Linked DNA regions of Homo sapiens: region 2 is linked to region 1. The links come from fine-mapping of genetic effects on gene expression. Tissue or cell type: whole blood. Region 1 holds a variant in brackets; the other region holds the start of a gene. All regions are shown on one strand. Distances are between the middles of the regions.

Region 1 (2,749 bases):
CCAGAGATCACTGAGGACTGCTGAGCAGAGGCAAGGAGGAGGTGTTGGGGTTACTGGGGAGGACTGCTCCACAGAGGCTCAGCCAGGCAGGGGCCCCGGTGGGGGTGGGCCTGGCTTGTTGGGGAGACGAGCCAGGAGGTGAAGGTGGGGGTGGGGGTGGGCCTGGCCTGTTGGGGAGAGGAGCCAGGAGGTGAAGGTGGGGGCCGACTTCTTCCCAGGGTCCCTCTCACTGCCAGGCTGAGGATGTACTGTGGGGCCCAGGTGGGAGCTGAGATGGGGAAGGCCTTTCCAGAAGGAGGAGCTGGGAGAGAGGCCAGGTGGACGTGGAATCTCTAGGACTGGGGACCTTGAAGCAGCAGATAGAGCGGCGGCTCAGGGCAGTCTCCCTCCAGGTCTGAGTGCATGGAGGGACACGGCGTCCGAAGCCACCCTAAGCTGGGGTGGAATCTCACTGCACCCTTTCTGAGCGATGTGGCCTTGGGGGGGCCGATGGAGTTGCCTGTCCTGTAGGTGACTGCTGGCCCCCAGGCTTCCGTAGGGTTAAATGAGATGGTGTTGGCAACACGCCCCCCAAAACCTGGCCATAAACTGGTCCCAAAACTGGCCATAAACAAAATCTCTGCAGCACTGTGACATGTTCATGACGGCCATGACGCCCACGCTGGAAGGTCGTGGGTTTACCAGAATGAGGGCAAGGAACACCTGGCCCACCCAGGGCGGAAAACTGCTTAAAGGCATTCTTAAGCCACAAACAATAGCGTGAGCGATCTGTGCCTTAAGGACATGCTCCTGCTGCAGGTAACTAGCCAGACCCATCCCTTTATCTTGGCCCATCCCTTCGTTTCCCATAAGGGATACTTTTAGTTAGTCTAATATCTACAGAAACAATGCTTATCACTGGTTTGCCGTTAATAAATACGTGGGTAAGTCTCTGTTCGAGGCTGTCAGCTCTGAAGGCTGTGAGACCCCTGATTTCCCACTCCACACCTCTCTATCTCTGTGTGTGTGTGTCTTTAGTTCCTCTAGCGCTGCCGGGTTAGGGTCTCCCCGACCGAGCTGGTCTCTGCAAGGTGGTGTGTGGCTCCCACTTGGGAGGCCTCCAGTTACTGGCACTGTCATCACCATGCCCACTGAACAAAGTGGACCAAGCCCCAGAGGCAGCCAAAACCACACCTTTCTGCAGGGAGGGTAAACTGAGCCCGCGAGCTCAGGGCAAGCGCACCAGGCGCATATGCTGGCCTTCATCTGTCCTCAGCTCCTCCCTGCGGGCACAAGCGGGGGCAGCTGAATCTTCCACGCGAGAAGCCTAAGAGTAGGGATACGGGGGCGGGGAGCAGCAGGCCTGCTCTGTGTGTAAACAACGGGAAAGCAGGAATAACGCCAGGGCCCGCGGACACCAGCTGCCTCCGAAGTCCCGCTGCCCGGCGCCTGCATGGAGCAGCCTCCTGAGCGCAGTGTGGCGCGTCCTCCTGTGTAAAGAGGGTAGAGCCGCGCCGGGTCCCTCCCTCTGCAGCCGTGAAGCCCCCGCGGGGCCCTGCAGGTGGCTGGCGGCACCTGCACACGGTGGTTCTCTGTTCCTTTTTCCTCCTCAACCACTGAGGTTAAAAAAAGTGTTAAAAGCCACCCTTTTTGTTTTTTTGAGACGGAGTCTCGCT[C/G]TGTCGCCCAGGCTGGAGTGCAGTGGTGCGATCTCGGCTCACTCCGAGCTCCGCCTCCCGGGTTCACGCCGTTCTCCCGCCTCAGCCTCCCGCGTAGCTGGGACTACAGGCGCCCGCCACCGCGCCCGGCTAATTTTTCGTATTTTTAGTGGAGACGGGGTTTCACCGTGTTAGCCAGGATGGTCTCGATCTCCTGACCTCGCGATCCGCCCGCCTCGGCCTCCCGAAGCGCTGGGATGACAGGCGTGAGCCGCCGCGCCCGCCCATTTTTTTTAAACGTGTTGGGGTTTGGGTTTCAGCCACAGGCCTTCTGCGATGAGAGGAAACCCAGGACGCGCAGCCCCAGGTCAGGCCCGCGGAACAGCCGGGCGGACTCCGGGGCTCGCAGACTCGCGACCCGCGTGCCATGAACCTCCGCGCCGGAGGCGGCAGCAGCGAGCGCGGGGCTGGATCCAGCGTAGCGGGGCGGCCGGGCGGATCCAGCGCAGCCGGGAGACAGATGCGAGGCGGCGGTCAGGTGAGCGGCGCGGGGCCGGCGGGGTCGGGGCCGGCGGGGACGGGGCCGGCGGGGACGGGGCCGGCGGGGACGGGGTCGGCGGGGTCGGGGCTGGGAGGGACGGGGCCGGCGGGGACGGGGTCGGCGGGGACGGGGCTGGGAGGGACGGGGCCGGCGGGGACGGGGCCGGCGGGGACGGGGCCGGCGGGGTCGGGGCTGGGAGGGACGGGGCCGGCGGGGACGGGGTCGGCGGGGTCGGGGCTGGGAGGGACGGGGCCGGCGGGGACGGGGCCGGCGGGGACGGGGCCGGCGAGGTCGGGGCCGGCGGGGACGGGGCTGGGAGGGCGGCCCGCCCGGCGCAGGGGCCTCGAGACCTCGGCCGCCCCACCCCGGGGACGCCGCCGCTGCTCCGGCGTCCACACCAGCTGCGTGCGGAGCACCCGGGCGGCTCAGGGGACCCGCGTGGCCGTGCCCCCGCCCTGGGCTGCTCCGAGCCTCAGTTTCCCCCTCGGTGGAACGGGTGGGTGGGAGAGACCTGCCCCCGAGGAGCCCGGGAGACCGGGCGAGCTCCCGCGGGTGTGGTGGGTGGGGAGGCACA
Region 2 (2,749 bases), 72 kb after region 1:
AAACAGCTCGGAGACCCCCAAGCCCTCACTCCCAACCTCCAGGCTTCCTATGTCCACAAAGCTGCTACTGGGAATACCCAGGAGCCTGGGACTATCAGTGTTAAGAAAGAGCTCTGGTCCCTCCCACAAATGACAAATCAAAACCCAAACCCACCAGCCCTGGGGCATTTGTCCCTATACCTTGGACTGCAGATACACAGGGTGGGTGGACCTGCTCCTCCCGGGGACAGCCCTTCGGGCTCCAGAGGATGCCACTGTGTGCGGCTGGGGGACTGAGAGGTTCCCATGTAGTTCCAGAGCGGCAGGCTGGCCTGCCTGTGCCCTCAGGCACCTGCTGGCTCCCTGGAATGGGAGCTCTAGGAAACCAGGAGGTGGTGGGCTTGGCTGGGCAGGTGGAGGAGTCTGCAGTTTGCATCCAAGTTCCTACCTAGGCAAATGGAACCCCGAAAGCCCTTTTGGAAAAGTCTCTGATCGGGAAGGGGGGAGGTTCTGAGAGCTTTCTTCCCGTTACCGACTCCAAGGTCCTGCAGTAGGGCCTCCACCATCAGGGCAGGGAGCGCTCCACGCGCACCTACCCTCCCCGATGAGCGTGCGCCTGGGCCACTCCCGGACCAGCCACCCTTGCAGCTCTGGAGTCCCCGGCAGGCCGCGCCCGTGCATGCCCCACATCCCCAAGACCCATCTCAGCCCCTCGCCCCTGGCAGGATCCCTGCCCGCGAGTCTACGGCCCTCGCCCCCCGGGACTCGCGGCTGGGCGAACAAAGCGGACGCGCTTGCAAGCGGCCAGCGTCGCCCTCACGCCCCACCGACAGGGACCCCAAACTCCAGCCCCGGAACCCCCCTCCCCCGCTCCCCGGGTCACCGGCTGGCTTGGCTGGGAGGGGGCTCAGGACGAAACTCCGGGCCACCCACCAAGGAGCGTGCCGGGCACGGCTTCCCGGGCCGGGAGCGCAGAGAACAAGGGGGCGGAGACTCGGTCCGTGTGCCCCCAGCCCCGCGCGGGGACCGCGCCCGGGAGGTGCCCCTGGCCCGCCGGACGACCCCGAGCTGCCAAAGGGGTCTTCGCGACTCCCGGGAGCGGCGAAGGGTGAGCCCTGGGGGGAGGGGCTGCGGCTCGCTGCGGGGAAGCGCTGCGCGGGGGTCTCGGGGGCTGGGGCTGAACTCACCTCCGGTGCCGGCGCCCTCCGGGGGCTCCATGCGGCCGGTGCGGTCTGGGAGGGGCACGGGCGACGGCGGCGTCGCCTGGCCCGGGCGCCCCAACAGCTGCGGCAGCGACTCGGCCCCGGCTCCGGGCGCAGCGCATCGGGGCAGCAACCGGGGGGCCGCGGCGGCAGGGAGGAGCCCGCGGGGCGGGGCGGGGCGCGCAGCTGCTCCCGGGCCCCGGCCCCCTCCCGGCGCCCCCCCAGCCGCAGGACAGGTGCGGCCCCGCCCCGGCCCGCGCGCGCCCCCTGCTGGCCCCTGGCCCAGCGGACCCCTCCCCCGCCGACCCTTCCCTCGCGGGCCGCGCCCCGCCGCGGACACCACCGGGACCTGGCTGCGCCCTCCCGACCCCGGCCGGGCGTCCGGGGCTCCTGCGCACTCACTTGGCGGCCGCGCCCGCTGGCGTCCTCTTGTTCTCTTCCAGGTACTTGCGTGTGGGGCGCCGACTGTGTGCGGGCGCCCCTCGGGGCTGGCGAGGGGCACAGGAGGGGCCTGACTCGCGCTGGGTAATGACAGACTCACAGAGCGCCCTGGATGGCGCGAATTAACGCGGGGGGCGGGTGGGGGCGAGGGCGTGTGCTTGGGAGGCTGGAAGGGGCGGGATGGGGGATGGGAGGTAAGGAGAGGGCGGCGGGCCCGGGCTGCAGAGAGCGCCAAGGCAGTTTCGATGAAACTGACCCCCATGTCCCTATCGCCCAGATTCAGCGATTGCCAGCTCCTGGCCTGGGCCACTGCTTCTCTGTCCTCATTCACTTCCCTCCACTGCTGGGTCATTTTGAAGCAAATTATATACACATTAGATCATTGCATTTGTAAGTACTTCAATATTTATCTCTCAAAGAAAGTCCGTTTGCAGGAGCATTGACTCATGCCTGTAATCCCAGCCCTTTGGGAGGCTGAGGTGGGAGCACAGCTTGAGCTCAGGAGTCCAAGGCTGCCGTGAGCTATGATTGTATGTCTCAAAAAAAAAAAAGAAAAGAAAAGAAAAGAAAAAGTCTAGTCTTCATAAACACTCTTGTTAACCCAGCATCCAGGCCTTCACTGAGTTGATGCCGTGGCCTGAGGCGGTTTACCTGGTGGATAGTGGGTGGCAGGAAGCATCAGACATCAGACAGAGGGCAGTCGGTTTGTTTGTATTAACATTTGCTCTGGGATTTTGCAGGAAACTCAGATGCCATTTATCTGGGTTTCTGAGCTGCACAGCTTGACACTGAATGAAAGTATCTTAAGCCACATATGTGAAGAAAAGGCTCTTTTCTAAAAATCTGAACTCGAATTCAATATGAAAAGAACAGGTCGCAGTGGGCCCTGTCGGGATCCCAGGGAGCCGCAATTCAGGGCTCCCTGAATGATTCATCTCTGCAGCCCACACCGACAGACCAGGATTGCTCTTAGCTTGTGAAAAATGAGTACCCTGTCTAGGCTATCCTGAGCTAACCCTCCTATTCTTGCCCTTTTTGCTGAAAGGAATTATTGTTAATACAGCTATTTAATTCAGGACACTCATCCAGACTTCTGAAGCAAAAAGCCAATCAGCATGAAGCTGCTA

Evidence for each region. PIP is the estimated chance that this variant, and not a neighbour inherited with it, causes the effect.
Region 2: DBNDD1 starts here. The variant in region 1 is fine-mapped to the expression of DBNDD1 in whole blood (TOPMed, PIP above 0.99).

Annotation. Positions count from the first base shown.
Region 1 is chr16:89,946,643-89,949,391 of GRCh38, forward strand. DEF8 (differentially expressed in FDCP 8 homolog) reads left to right here and starts at 2,113. Exons shown (of 13, transcript NM_001242818.2): 1 at 2,113-2,172. RefSeq lists an enhancer at 1,123-1,462 and a silencer at 2,143-2,242. The variant C/G (reference allele first, on the strand shown) is at 1,656.
Region 2 is chr16:90,018,145-90,020,893 of GRCh38, forward strand. It overlaps DBNDD1 (dysbindin domain containing 1), which reads right to left and starts at 1,312. Exons shown (of 4, transcript NM_001042610.3): 1 at 1,167-1,312. The coding sequence starts at 1,197. It also overlaps a transcript of DRC4 not described here. RefSeq lists silencers at 1,431-1,570, 2,317-2,611.